2 separate regions of the Homo sapiens genome follow, and region 1 is linked to region 2. A link means that fine-mapping ties the variant in region 2 to the expression of a gene that starts in the linked region. Tissue or cell type: thyroid. Region 2 holds a variant in brackets; the other region holds the start of a gene. All regions are shown on one strand. Distances are from middle to middle.

Region 1 (7,571 bases), 840 kb after region 2:
AGAGAAATCCCATCAACCAACTCAACCCACCTCCAATGACAGCAGGCACCAAACAGATGTTACCTCTCTAGGGCCATTCATCTAGGTTCTTGGTCCTCCCCCTTCTCCTCCCACTGGACACGCATTCGGGTAGCACTTAGGAAGGCCCTAACGCCTGCCGGAGCCTGTTAGGAAGGCTACAGGAAACAGAAGCCACAGCTCTAACTGCTACCTACCCAGGGGCACGAGCCCCGCCTCCCAGGCCACAGCTTCACTGCCTCCCTGGAGTCAGGCCAGAGGGACCCTGCCTCCTCCCCTTCACCTGCCCAACTCCCTCTCCAGCCCAGAACCGGAAACTCTCCACAGTCCTGAGTCCCCTTCTGTCCCTCTCCTCCCCTTACCCATGCCCTTGGCCCTTCACTTGAGACCCCTGGGTGGAAGACAGAAAGGACTGGGTCATTACACAGCACAGCCCATCAGAAGTGAATGTGTCGGTCAGCAAGTAAGGAGCAAACGTTCGAGCTGAACTCCCTGTGTCTGGGCCTGCTTTGGCCTTGCAGCATGGAGCCTCAGTTTCCCCTGAAATTCCCTGCCCAGTACCTTTTGGGGTTGCACCTGCCTAGTGCCGCCTCTGAGCTGCTACTGTCTCACATTGCAGGCCTCCCTCAGAGCCCAGCTCTGCTGCCACCAACCCAGGAGAGGTAAGGCCGGCCCTTGCCTGGCCCAGGGGCTGGGACGGGGAGGTGTTCAGAACGCTCCAGCCCTGCCCTGGCCTCAGAACACGCGGGCTCAGTTCCGCTTTCTGCCCCAGCCTCCACCCGGCCCCAGGGGAAACGAAAGTGGCTAGACCGGGACAACTCAGAAACCAGACTCACTGTGGGCTGAGGGAGGGAGCCGAGTGGGTCCCCCAGACCAAATTTCCAACCTCCCACCCAGAGCTGTTCCCCGCACCCCAAACTTGCAGACAGTTTTTGTGCATTTAGTGTGGTTTATAACATGGGTGTGCACCCACCCATAGTTGTATCTGTAGACCCCTGAGAGGCCTTGGCCCTAGAATAGAGGGGTGCCAGTCACCAGCGGCACACAATTCTGGCCGAGCAAGGGTGGACAGAGGAAGCTCTGTCTGCACAGAATCGGGGAGAGCTTCCCTAATGACCCCCTGGGCTGAGGCCGTGCAGGCGCTGGTGCCGTTGGGGAGCTCAGAGGGTCCGGCTGCCTGCCCCCTACTGTCAGTCCAGCAGTCTGGCCCTGCCCAACACGGCTGTTTAATACAGAGCAAGGTTTTGAAATGATAACTCCGACCTCAGTGTCAGAGGGCCGCGTCCATACAGGCAGCTTAGGGAGGGGTGTGGAGGAGGAGCTCCCGTGACAAGCCCGGCTGTGATGAGCGAGAGTCTGTCCACCATGCCACAGAAGGGACTCAGCCTCAAGGCTTTTGCCTGCAGCTAGGTCCACACGAGCTCTAACCCGAACAGCATCCATCCTCCTAGAAGCTCCCTTCTGCCCAGAAAAGGGCTAGGTCTAATTCAGACCACCCCAATCAAGGCCCATGACTTTGGAAGTTCGGTGTCAGAACAGGTCTGCCTGCCAGGCTCCGGAGTCTCTGGGTGAAATGTATGGAGCCCTAGACCTAAGTCAATGGACCTGAGCCCCGGAAGGTGGGGAAATCCAACAGCCTGAGGAAGTCCCTACAATTGTGTGAGGCAGCGAAGCATCCAGTGGGCAGCCCTAGAGGACCTGCTGAGGTGGGGTAAGCCCACAGCTCACCCCAGGGCCATGCTGGAGTCCCAGGAGACAGTGCCCCCACCACCACCCAGGAGCTGCAATTCATGGGCACCAGGGACCCACTAGGGGAGGAAGTGCCACAGCAGTCCTAGTAAGAGTGGCCAGACAGCAGGCGCCCTGCTGCTCCCAGGGTTGGTCTGGGTCACATGTCTCCTTGCAAACCCACACCCAGCTCAGGGAGAGGACAAGGGGTTCCCTGTACAGGCCCTGACCCCCAAATCCCACCCCTCCGGGTCAGCTGCCCACACCCTGGGCCCTGCTGCCCACCTGGTCCAGACAGGCTGAGGCTCTGGGGCAAAAGGTGCCCAGAAAGAAGCTTCTTTCAGCTTCCTCCCAGGGTCAGGGTAGGGGAAGACCAGGGTACAGGGGAAAAACCCCAAAGTAGGGCCTTTAGATAAAAAGGGGTGATTTCCCAGTGCTTCCCTTGACTCTTGGAACCCCTCAGCCCCAGCACCCCAGGCCCCATAACTACTGGGGGTGGGGGCAGGAAGGGGAGGTCTTGCCAGAGGGCCTCCTGAGGGGCTACAGTTTCCTACATCGATACAGCCGAGCCCTCTCTGGTTCTGGTCACTTATCCCCATTCTGGGCCCTCGAGGAGCCCAGGCCCAGCCCAGTCCTCCGCCCCTGCTCCCCCCTCCCCTCCGCCCCCACCCCTCCCGCGTGCTCCGCTGGGGCACACCCCCTGGGCCAGCCCGCGGAGCCACCCCCACCTCCAGAGTCGGCCTCTGGACCTCTCCTCCTGCTGCTGGAGGAGCAGCACCCCGGTCCTCGCCCTGCTGTGTTCAGCGTGGCCGCGAGGCTGGGAAAGTCCCCCACTCCAGCCTCTGCTCCCAGGTACCCGCTCCCGCCCCTCCCGGGGTCCGGAGACAACCATCTCCCCACGCATCCCGGCCATGCTAGCCTCACTTTTCCTCCACGTTTAGCCTCTTCATTGTTGCCTTCTTAAGTTCTGGGACAGGACCTGAGGAAACCAGCCCAGGAACTATTGCGCCCCATCCTTTTCCGCTGCTCGGGGGACGAGAGTCTGCCATTCCCGGCCGCGAGCCCAGGGACGCAGCCTCTACCTGACACCATCTTCCCCCAAACTCTTGCACAGTTCCTGCCATTGGCCTGAAGATCCCGGGGGATGAACGCTTTAACCTCAACCTCTTTTCCGAAAGGGTGAGGGTGGCCCGGTAAGAGCAAGGGCGAGTGCATCGAAAGTAAGGATCGGGCCTCGCTCCTCTGTGGTCCAAGCCAGCCTCCAGCGGGGCTCCCGGGAACCCCCATTCTGGGCGATGGCGAGGGGGAGGGAGAGCAGCAGAGCCGGCGCCCCCCGCAGCGCTGCCCACTCCGCCGCCTGGGTCACTGGGCTCCCCGGGCGCCAGCACCCCAAACCGATCGGGGCGTGGGAGGCGCTTTGGAAGTCCCAGGCCGGCCGGGCGCACCCTGCTGTAGGCACCCACCCGAGCTCGCTTTCCAGGCGCAGCTGGACGCGGACCCCGCCCTACTCCAGTCTTCATCCCGCCGCCCGCAGGTGCCTGGGGGGCGCGGGGCCCAGTCTAGGCCTAGACTTGGGGGCAGTAGCCGGCACCGCTCCCGCCACCCTCGGGGCGCGCCGGGCGCGGACGCAGAGAGGAGAGCGCGGCGGCCGGGACCCACCTGTCTGCGGTGCGCCTGCGTGGCTGCGCCAGGGAGCACCGGCCGGGCGGCGGGACCAAGCTGAGCTCTGCCCAGGCTGCGCCTCCCGCCGGTCCGCCAACCTGCCGGGCACTTCCGCGTCTTGCCGCCCCCGCCCCTGGGCAGCTGCTGCTGAGCTCCGGGCGCGGGCAGTGCCCCGCCCCGCCCCGCGAATCCACTCCGGGCCCCGCACTGACCTGGCAACTGCAGATCCGGGCTGAGCCTCGGGCCAGGCCCAGGGCCTCCAGGGAGATGCCAGACGGCGCGGTGCCCTAGACTGGCCACTGGCTCTTTTGGCAATCTGGAATGGCAAAACTGTCATTTGACAACCCCGTACCTCCCGCTGCAGTGCTCAGTTGGGCCCTGGGAGAGGGTGGGGTGCTTCCCCACTCTGGTCCTCCGGGGCTGCACACAAATGAGGGCGCAGTGTGGCCGACCCACAGCTCCAGGCCCTCCTCTCGCCTGCCTACACCCCTGGCGAGGGTGGCTCTCGCCCTAGAACACAGTCGCTGCCCCCAGGATCCAGACACCCCTTCCAGATGTGCTTGCAGGCGGGAATCCTCTAGTCACTCTGTGCCTTTCTCATCCTCAAACCCTGCACCTGTCTCGCCCCAGCTCCCCTAAGTCGCCTTCCAGTCATCCCAGGGGCAGCGGCGTGGTCGCCTGTCCCACCTCCTCTCACTACTACCTTGACCGTCGACCTGTGGTTCTGAACCGTTTTCGATTCCATAAAGAACCTCACCCCAGAACCTCCACCTTCACACACCTCCTGTTCCTTCTCATGGAATGTTCTTCGCTTGGTAACTCTTGCTCTTCAAAATTTCTGTTTCTGAAATTTTCAGCATCGCCTTCTCTGGAAAGTCTGCCTTGACTTCCCCTCCCAGGTGGGGTTCCAGGGTGCAAATAGCTTCCTGGTTGATTTTGCTTATGATTTTGTTATGGATTGCCAGGGGTTTGGTCCAGGTCTGGCTGCTCACCGCACAGAAAGCCTATCACTGAGACAGCGAGTATTGCCAGGGAAGACTTTATTCCGGTGACATCAGCCAGTGAGCTGTTGAGAGGGGAGACAAACCTCCAATCCATCCCTCCCCTTGACTAAAGTTAGGGGCTTATATAGCAGGGAAGGAAAACAGGAGGGACAAGGAAGAGGAATTGGTCAACAGGCAGCAGGTGTACTGATGTAAGTGTCTCAAGCTTCAGTTCTATGAGCATCTGGCTTTTTGGAAAATTCAGCGGGTTTCAATTTTGATGTCTGATTTCCACTCGAATCAGCTTACTCAGGAACCTCCCTCCTGTCTTTTCATTGTTCATTTTATTTTATTTTATTTTTTGATATGGAGTCTTGCTCTGTCACCCGGGCTGGAGTGCAGCAGTGCGATCTCAGCTCACTGCAACCTCTGCCTCCCCAGTTCAAGCGATTCTCCTGCCTCAGCCTCCCAAGTAGAGACGGGGTTTCACCATGTTGGCCAGGCTGGTCTCGAGCTCCTGACCTCAGGCGATCCACCCGCCTTGGCCTCCCAAAGTGCTGGGATTACAGGCGGGAGCCACTGCGCCAAGCAGAGCCTTGTATTTTTAACAAATAAAGTAGTATTTGTTGATGAATCAGAACTTTGACCTTCCCTCCCCTCCCTTCTCCTGGGTTGAACTTTACCTTTAACAAGTTAAAAAAAGACACTCATGTGTTAACGTTTTTTTTTTTTCTCTTCTGTATCTCTCCCTCTTTCCTGACCTTTGAAGCCCTAATATGAAGTCGAAATATCATTATATATAAGTATTTTATTATTTGTATCTGCTGAGTATTTCATTATTTCATATTTTTAAAATTTAAAGTATGGATGGGGAAAATGTGAATGGGTAGATCGTTTTATATTTCTTTCTTTAAAAATGAAATTGCTAGGCCAGGCACGGTGGCTCACATTTGTAATCCCAACACTTTGAGAGGCTAAGGCAGGCAGATCACTTGAGTCCAAGAGTTCGAGACCAGCCTGGGCAATATGGCAAAACCTTGTCTCTACAAAAAATACAAAAATTAGCCTGGCGTGGTGACACACACCTATAGTTCCACCTACTTGGGAGGCTGAGGTGGGAGAATTGCTTGAACCCAGGAGGCACACCACCGCACTCCAGCCTGGGCGTAGAAGTGAGATCTTATCTCAAAATAATAATAATAAAATGAAATTGCTATTTCAAAAGTGGCTCCCCACAAAATGGGAACCTTTTTCACTGGAGGTCAGTTATGCTTAATAGAAAAATATTCTATGCTGGTCGTATCTGGAGCAATAGCTAAGAAGAGCCTTCTTTTGTTATCAAATACTCCTCACCCATTCTGAGGGACCGTGAGACCCTAGAATTCTGCCCTCTGCCCCCTTCCCACTGTCCATCTTGCTCAGGTGAGGCCCCTTCCTTAGAGCCTCTGAACCTCAAGAAGCAGCACGGGCTGCGTGCAGAGAAGGGGCTTGCACCTGGCTTTGCTGTATTCCAGCCAAGTGGCCTTAAGTAGGACCTCAAATCTCATTTCCTCGTCTCTAAAAGGGGGATGATGTTACCAAGCCGGCAGCATTGATATGGGGCTCCCGGGATAGAGGCTATGCAGGGGCTCAGCTTGGCTCAGATCCTGACTTCCCTCAACTGAAAGAACCTGAGCCAAGAATCATCTGGGGCCAGAGACATGGCCCAGGAGAAAGGAAGGACAGAGAGCAGCACTCCAGTGTTTCCAGGATCTGGGATCCCTTGGCCTCCCAGTGCCATCCTGGGGGTGGAAGGGCAAGTAGAGGGGAAGTGAAGCCACACCCGGCCCTTGTGTGAGCACTCCCATTTCCCCTTGATGGGCCAGGAGGCGGTGGGGACAGGGAGGTCTGTCCGGGCCCCCCACTCCCCACAGTGAGATGGCCCCTTCCCCCATTTCCCCTGGCTGGAATATCACAGACTGAGGGTGTGGTAGGAGGCACCCTCCCCTGACTCGAGTAGAAGCTACGCTGTGTGAGCGAGTGTAGAGTGGGGTGGCTGGGGTGGGGAGCAGGGGGGAGGAGGGAAGCCGTGTCACCAAAGGGAACTGAAAGAAACCCAGAGGCCCACTGGGCAGCTGAACAATGCACCCTGGCTCTGGAACAGCCCCCTTCAGTGCAGCCTGGGTTGATGACAACTGCCTTTGCCTCTCAAAACCTCTACCCCAGGAAACCCACCCCCTCGGCCTGGGCTCTCAGGGGTCCCCAGGCTGACTGTCCTATTTCTCAGAAACCCCGAGTTTCTGAGAACTTGTTGGCTGGACATCAGGCTCTGAGGTCAACAGGTCTGAGTCAAATCCTCACTCTGCAATCTAGAATTGCGTGACCTAAGCAAGCCATTCACTCCCCCAGAAGCCCCATTTCCCATCTGTAAAGGAGAATGGTGACACCAGTGTCACGAATTGGCTGTGAGTCTACATTCAACAATGCTTATCGGGCATGTTGTACCTGCCAGGATAAAGTGGTGGACAATTTCTACTTTGTCTAAAAACCCCTGCCCTCCTGGAGCTTCCATTCTGCAGAGTAAGATAGACGATAAATCCTCAAGTAATGAAATCGGGTGAGGCCTTGAGGGGCACCTCACAGGCTATGGCTTTGCTAGGGACAGTCACTGAAAGGTTCAGATCTGAGGCATGACATAGTCTGATTTAGATTTTAACACCTCTTGGCCGGGTGGGGTGGCTCACGCCTGTAATCCCAGCACTTTGGGAGGCTGAGGCAGGTGGATGACCTGAGGTCAGGAGATCGAGACCAGCCTGGCCAACATGGGGAAACCCCGTCTCTACTAAAAAAAAAAAAATACAAAAGTTAGCCAGGCGTGGTGGTTCATACTTGTAATCCCAGCTACTCGGGAAGCTGAGGCAGGAAAATTGCTTGAACCCAGAAGGCGGAGGTTGTAGTGAGCCGAGATTGCACCATTGCACTCCAGCCTGGGTGACAGAGCGATACTCCGTCTCAAAAGAAAAAAGAAAAAACAAAAAAACACCTCTGGTTCTCGTACTTGAAGTGTTCACTTGCTTTGAAGTTTCTGGCACATAGAAGTAGTATCTTTTTTTTTAGGATTAATGCCCAGGGCGCCACAGCTGGGCCTTCCTCCCCATTTCTTACTAACACCGGCTCAGAGCTTTTTGGGGTGTGACCTGG
Region 2 (7,571 bases):
AAGACATACAATGAAAAGAAAAATCTCCAACCCTCTGCGCTGAGACCTTTCGTGCAGAAAAAACCTGATGTTTAACCCCCTGCCCCATTTATATTTTTACACAAATAGGAATCCACGTGCCTTTTGCGTTTTTCACTGAACGCCTAGGCGACTTTCCAGGATATATAAAGACCCCATGTTTTCCTCATTCTTTTAAAGAGCTGGGTCGATTCCGAAGACAGAATCTCCTTTCATTTGACAGTCTCTGTGTTTCTCCTTCTTTCGAATCTCTGCATCCTCCGACCCCGCAGCCGGGAAGGAACCACTCCAGCCTCCCGTCCAAACAGAACCCTACAGGGCCCTACCTCGATCAGAGGAAAAACGCACAGAAGCACACGCATACGGTTTTCGAAAAATGTCGGGAAGTTCGTTGGGTTTCCAGTGACTTTGTTGACCCACGAGAATCTAGATGCTAGAGCAAAGGACCGAGGGCTAAGGGCTGGGCCAAGATCGAAAGACTCCCGCTTTGGCTTCCCCGGCACGTGGCCCTGGCGGAGGAAGCACCAGGGACACAGCGGCTGGGGCGGGCACCCGGCGGCAGTCGCGCGGACGAGGGTGCAGGGCGTGCTGAGGCCATCTCGCTGGGCCTGCAGTTTGCAGAGATCTCCGGGTCGCCAAGTACCCACGTGCTCACATGTGCATTTTCTTCATCCCCAGAGGTGCGAGTCATTCTGCCCATTTTGCAAATGGGAAACTGAGGCTTAGAGAGGTGAAGTGAATCCCTCGAGATCGAGATCACAGAGGGACTGGAGCAGGGGAGGACTGGAACTCTGGGTTCCTCTCACTGGGGTTATACTAGTTATGCCATGGGGCCAGGGTTAGCAGGAGAACCTCACCATTCGGAGAGGGGCCAATGGCAGAACCACGGCCGCATCAGTGGGTCTGCGTGAGGGGCTTGTATCCCGGGCACCTTTCCCCCTAGTCCTGCCGCCGGAGGAATGGGAAGGGAGGGGAAGACCGATGGTTACTTCTTTGCCCAAGGTCTTCAGCACGAGTGGGATTGTCATGGAGCTGGCGAAGGGAGCCGTGTGGGGTAGGGACTAGGAGGGAGCAAGCCAGAGGGACAAGCCGCGACACCATTAAAAAGGACGGAGCGCAAGGCGCCGAGTCTCCTAGGTGGGGGCAGCAAGGAAGACAGCGGGTCTTTCCTAAACCTGGCCAAGCGTCGAGGAACCCAAAACTACCCGTCCCGGGGCGCACGACTCCGGGCAGCGTGGGACGCCTGTGGCGAGGCGGAAGGGATCTCTCCAGCGAGAGGGAATGGGGCAATTGCCAGACGGACATTGGATCTGCAGAAGGAGGGGGTAGGATACACGCGGGCTTAGGATGCGCTGGACAGGCCAGCAAAGTGAGGACCCCAGGTCGTCCTGAGCCACCTCTTCCCCCGCCTGAGCCCTGAGCCGTAAGGGATCCAGGGTATCAGGTCCCCGGGGGCCGCCCCCTCACCGTCCGAGTCCAGCTCCGGTTACCTGCCTGGCCTGCTCCTTAAAATATGTATGAGGCCCTTGCGGGTGCAGTTTCGCGGCCCCTCCCGGAGTGGGGCTGGGGGACTCAGGGTGCGAGGGGAGCTGAGGGGGGAGGAAGCGACGCGAGCTCCCCGGCCGGGGCCTTCTCGACTTTCAGCAGCGCATTTAAGAAAAGGTGGAAATCGGATCTGTCTCGGCGGCGCCCCAGCCCCGCCCGCTCCGACGGCCGGACCTCGCGGCCCAGCGGCTAGCTTTCTGCTGCGCGGTGTCTGGTTCTCGACAGCAGGTGAATGGGCCAGGGCGGGGCGCCCGGAGCGCGGGGGGCGGGGCGCGCGTTATAAAGGGGAGCAGCAGGCCGCGGGGGCCACTCGCAGTCCGCAAGGCCTGCGCTTCCCGCTTTGCGGTCCTGGGCACACCCGGCCCGGGTTGCCCAGCATCGCATGGGTCTGAGGACCAGGTAGGGCGCGGGTGCAGAGACAGCCAGGGAGGCTCGAGGCGACCTAGATGGGCGGGGGAATGCTAGTAGGACGGGGAGGGGTTAATGTGGAGCTATCACCCCCTTTTGGCCCGTTGGGCTCTGTGACGTGCTCATTATCTCCGCTGTCCGGGTTCTCGCTCACCGTGCCCATCCCTGGCTGCATGGGGAGAGGGGCCCCGAGGCCCTGAGACTCGTCCAGTTATCCACCTGGGGTGGGAATCTTGCTTCCCGATCCATCTGGCTGCGACATCTACGGCTTCAGCAGGCCCTGCCCGGGAGTCGGGCATATTGAAGGGTTCGTATCCTTGCCGTCACCCTTGGCCCCTCCCGGCTCGGCAGGAGCTGGGGGTGGGGAAACTATAGATTTCCCGGGCCCCGCTTCCACTGCCTCACCCCCTTCTTTTGCTCGAGCCCAAGACAAGGTGTTAACGGTCTTCAAGTGCAAGGGTTAGGTTTGGTGGGAGCATAGGCTAAGCACCACCCTCATTTTACAGGGGCTTCTAGGGTGCCAGATCTGCGGGGGTCGATTGGGAAGAACTAGAAGCTAAAAAGGAGAAGGGCGGATTAACGTTTTATTTTAATCTGGTTTTGAGCTGCCGTTGCCGTCTGGGGCGGCCGGGCGGGGCGGAGCTGGGACTGCCAAGGGCAGCCAAAGCAGCAGGGAGGGAGGGGGCGCTCCGGTGCTCAGGATGCTGGGGAAGAAGGAAGAGGCCACCCCAACGCTGACAGCTTGGAGGACCTAGCCCCTGCCCCCCGGTCCCTTCTGAATGCTCCGGGTGGTGTCAGACCAAAGGACGGTTGAGAAGGATCTAATCCGCGTCCGCGCCCCAGCCCCGGCTGGCCCCGCCCCCTCCCGAGGGAGCCACTGTCGCAGTGGGGGGAGGGGGAGATGGGAACGGGTCTGGGGGGCGGCTCCCCTCCCCCTCCCTCTCTTGGGACAGACAGCCTTTGTTCCCGGCGGCGGCGGCAGCGGTGGCCAGACACCTGTGAGGCCGCAGAACTGGCCGAGGGTGGGCGTGTGAGGACATGGAGGCCCCTTGTCCCCATTCCAGCCCTGCGCCCCTGGGTCCGGGTGCGCCCCCTGAGACAGGTCAGCCTTGAGCACCTTTCTGCGGGGAGACTGCAGAGATCGTCCAGTGGCCCTACGGTGCGCCCCAGCTCCCAACGCACTTCCCCTCCCCCCTCCCAGGGTCGGATTTCCAAGCACGCCACGCCACACACACCTCGGCTAGCTCCGGGCTCAGAGGGCGCTGGGGTGGCAGGGCGTCCGGGCGCACCTCGGCTAGCGGCACCCTAGCCCGAGGGCAGGAGGCGGGGATAGAAGGCGGGCGACGGGACCCCTTGGGGCCAGACCCGGCCGGGTTGGGCAAGCAGGCGGGGCTCCCGGCGTCTCCGCAGTCCCGGACGGGCGTGCCCTGCGCCGCGCACCAACCGGAGCCACATTCAAGGTGAATCATCCCCGGCCCGCCCCCTGCCCCTCCCCGCCTCGCGGCACCTGAGCCAATGGCGCTGCGCGAGGGGCGGGCGGGGCCCGGGGCGGGGGGCGGTAAAACCCTCCTGGAGTCATTCTCTGTGCACTCCGTCGAGCCCCCGCGCAGCCGTGCCGGAGCCGCAGGGCCTCCGTCCAGCCGCGCGGTCCGGGCAGCCCGCGCCCCCTGTTCTTCCGGTCCTCGGGCCCAGGTACCCCTCTGGACCTCCCCCGCCTGCAGCGCGGAGGCGGCTCCTCTTCAGGTGGCCGGGCCGGGGCCTTCCCCGGCAGACCTGTCACCCGACACCCAGGAAGCGCGCGGCCGGGTCCCGGCTCCCCTTTGTTCCCCCGCTGGGCTCGGCGCTCCGGCGCCGCCCCCTCTCGCGGGGCAGCGGAGGTTTGGGCCCGGGCCGGGCGCGCTTCAAGCTCCGTCCATGCGGCTCTTTCCAAACCGGGGCCGTTTTTGCCTGGCTTCTCTGGTGTGGACTCCGCGCGGAGCTGAGAGGCGGCTGTGCGCCCAGCCTGGAGCCGGCGCAGGTGAGTGTCTGGGGCCGGGAGCGGGGGGGCGGGCCGGGCGGAGCCAGAGCGGGGCTCAGTAGAGGAGGCGGAGGCGGGCGCCCGGGACCGGCCGCACTAGAACCCGGGTGCAGGGCAGAAGTCCCGGCGCAGCTGGCTTTCGGGGATGACGCGGCAGTGCCTACTCGCTCTTCCGCGCCTTCAGGCGGAGGCGCCCACGGGGCGCCTGGGTCCCGGGTCCGCCAGTGGCGTCTGCCCAGCGCCCAGCGCTGTTCCCGGGCGGGGGCGGGGGCGGGAGCGGCTGCGGTCCGAGTGCGGCCGGTGCTTGCGAGGTGCCTACCCGCGAGGAGTTTGGCTGGGGTCGGGCTGCGTTTCGCCGCCCTGGTGGGCTCAGGCGGAAGCGCCAGGCTGGGAGGGGGCTGCGGAGAGCGCCGGGGCCCCGGAGCTGGCCCCTCCAGCGTCTTGTCAGGGCTGCGCGGCTGGTTCGAGGCTGCTTCCGTGGCCCGGAGCCGCCCCGCCCAGTCTCTGGGGGAAAGCGGCTCTCAGACCTCCCGTGTGCCTCCACTTCGCGGCCACTCATCCCGGGAACCCCGGCGCACGCGAATGAGACACCGTTCCCCGCCCTCAACTGCCCCATTCCTGTTAATAGCGCTAGTGGCACCCAGGTTCCCAGCCCTTCCCCAAGATCGGCGGCTGGACGGCTTGCCTCTGGCGCCTCAC[C/G]GGTCAGCGCATCCCAGGACTATGGGCAGTGAGGGTGTCACCCGGGGTCAGGGGTCGCCCGATTCCACGGTGTCCTCCAGGCTGAGCCATTCGTTTGCTCTTCCAACCCGGGCTCCCGGACACCGTGTACAGTAATACCCGCCGGGGGCAGGGGCACTGAGGCCGGCTCTGAGCGATTAGGGCCGAGGGCGGGCGGTGCCGTAATCGACCTCCCCACCCCCACAGGCAAGGTGCGGCGGCGCCTCCCAGGTTTGCGCCCGTCTTCGCAAAGCTCCTGAGGGCGAAAATCCTGCGAGCCAGGTGGCGGATTCTCGGGCCGGGTCACTCAGCTCTACGGGTGCGCATCACCCTCTACCTGTCACCCAGTGAGCCCGACCGATGGGCACCGAGTCGGCGGATCTCTGATCCGAGGCCGAGCCTTCGGAGAAATCTGTCCTAGTGGCCTCATCGTGGCCTGAGCGAACGCAAAGGAACCTGCCCCAAGCCCAGCTCTCAGCCTCGACCCCCACATTCCCCGCGCGGCTCTCGGTTCGGACCTGGGCTCGGAGCGGCAGCCTCCACCACTGCTCGTTTCTTTACCGCTCAAGGCCGCCCCTTCATGCTCCTGCGGGGGAGTTAGCGGGACCTCTGGAGTCGGCCTTACGCAAAGAAGAGAAAATTCTAGGATGCCGGCCTCACTTGTGAGGATTTCGTTTATTCTTTTTCTCCTACCGGGGCCCAGTGGCTCTTGGAGTGAGCTCCGCACCCCAGACACCTGAGTATTTATTTAATGGGTCGGTGGCGGCCTGGGCTTCGGGGAAAGGAGCTCTGGGCCCCTCTCCCAGCACCTCATGGGGACACAGGATGACAGGCGCAGCGTCCAGGGCATGCCCGTTCAAGGGCCCCAGCAGCCTCTAGCCCCTGGGACCTCAGGGGCATTTGATAGAGACTGGAGGGATCAGGACCAGACCGGTTGTGGGTGGCGCGGCTGGGACCCTGGACTCCAGATTCGTTGTGTAGAGGTGGAGAGGAGAGCCAGGAGTCGAGCGGTAGGCTATGTGCTGTCTAAGGACCCCGGAGTACCCATAGCCCAGAGTCCTGCAACACTCACCTCTAACACTGGAAGGGGTTGGGGGCCTGCCCTTTGCATTGGGCACCAGTGCCCAGGAAGGGACACCCCTAGGGGAAAGGGGACTCGAGTTTTAAGAAGGCCCAAGTAGAGTTCAGGAGGGTGGGGCTGAGAGCGACCGAAGGTGGGAGGGGGCGCTTTGTGGAGACCTCCTAGGATGTGTAGGACCCCCACACACCCTGTGAGTCCCTGGCTGCCCAGCCTGGCCTGCAAGTTGCATCTCTTTTGGTCCTCTTCCATTGCCAGGCGCTGACGCCCAGCGGGTGTGGGAGACCTTGTCTTCATCTTCCCACTCCAGAAGCGGATTTCTGTGCCTTTGATCTCAAGGTCAGGGCTGTGTCCTGCAGGGAGGGCAGAAGAGGCTGCTATCCTGACCTGCGCCAAGCCATAGGCCTCTGTTTTCCCTTTTGAGATTCCGAGTGGGGATTCTGCTGCTGATGTCGGAGAGCTCCTCTTACCCGCTTTTCGAGAGAGCTGGGAGACCTTGCTTCCCTAGGGCCCAGGCCCCAGCCTCCCTCCACCAGGATGGAGAGGCCCCAGCGGGCGTGGCACCCCCCAGGCACTGCGGCACTTGGGCTTCCTGTCGCATTTGGGTTAGGAGGGGTGAGGCAGGCGCAGGGGAGGAACCTGGCCCAGCCGACTAGAACTGGAAGTGGAGAGGGATTTGGCTTTGCGAGCTGCTCCCTGTATTCCATCCTATGTCAGTTACAAAGATGAGGAAAACAGACCAAGGAGCTCGACAGAGATGCCACAATTTGAAGGAGCGTACGTGTTTGGCTGCTTTGTTACAGGGCTCTCTCCTCTACCTGGGGTCCCTTTTATTCCTTCCTGGGCTGGGGAGAGCAGAATCCCTGGCTCCATCTGTTCTCCAGCTCTAAGGCCTCTGTGGCTCCTTGGTTGCAAGGTGCTGCGTGTTCCCCTTCCCTAACACCTGCCTCTCCCCATCCTTGGCTGTCCCCAAAAGAAGAATGAAGAATTCTTTTTTTTTTTTTTTTTTTTTTTGTTGTTGTTGAGACAGAATCTCGCTCTGTTGTTGCCCAGGCTGGAGTGCAGTGGTGCGATCTCTGCTCACTGCAACCTCCACCTCCCGGGTTCAAGCGATTCTCCTGCCTCAGCTTCGGGCGCCTGCTACCACGCCTGGCTAATTTTTGTATTTTTAGTAGAGACGGGGGTTTCACCATGCTAACCAGGCTGGTCTCGAGCTTCTAACCTCAGGCGATCCTCCCGTCTCCCAAAGTGCGCTGGGATTACAGGTGTGAGCCACTGCGCCCAGCCAGAAGAAAGAAGAATTCTGCATTCTGTTTAATTATCCCAGGGTGAGGCTTCTTGGGAAAGATTTCTCAAAATAGATCTTCCCACCCCCACCCCCACCCCATGCTGAGCTGTCAGGGTGCTATTAAAATGCAGATTTCCAGGCAGGCTCAAGAATCTACATTTCAACAGGCTCCTTGGGTGATGCTTATGGCTACACCCTAAGCAATGTTCATAACTACCCACCCCATACTCTTTGCTAACACCCTGCCATCACCCCTTCCCCTCCCCACCCAAGGCTGGGAAGTCTGGTCTCTCTTCCTTAGTAGAGTTCAGAAAATTGTAGTAAGGGAAACTGAGGCAGAAGGCTGAGGAGTGACTTCCTGAGATCACCACCTCATCAAGCTGGATTGTCCTCTGGGGAGATAGACCAGCTAGAAGGGCAGAGCCCTGTAGTGGGGGTGTGTGGGAGCAGGACAAAGAGTCCTCGGGAGCAGGAAGGGTGGAGCATTAAGCAGTGTCTAG

Evidence for each region. PIP is the estimated chance that this variant, and not a neighbour inherited with it, causes the effect.
Region 1: it holds the start of IRF5, and the variant in region 2 is fine-mapped to the expression of IRF5 in thyroid (GTEx, PIP 0.92).

What each region holds. Positions count from the first base shown.
Region 1 is chr7:128,933,884-128,941,454 of GRCh38, reverse strand. It overlaps IRF5 (interferon regulatory factor 5), which reads right to left and starts at 3,528. Exons shown (of 9, transcript NM_001098629.3): 1 at 3,406-3,528. RefSeq lists enhancers at 672-721, 832-1,061, 2,552-2,621, 2,655-3,238, 4,906-5,200 and 2 more and silencers at 2,902-3,661, 6,396-6,485.
Region 2 is chr7:129,776,207-129,783,777 of GRCh38, reverse strand. No RefSeq gene overlaps it. Among named protein-coding and RNA genes, the nearest start is that of MIR183, 5.0 kb to the right of the region's middle. RefSeq lists enhancers at 73-917, 918-1,763, 2,610-3,455, 5,994-6,840 and silencers at 3,076-3,875, 3,936-4,015, 4,166-4,295. The variant C/G (reference allele first, on the strand shown) is at 4,688.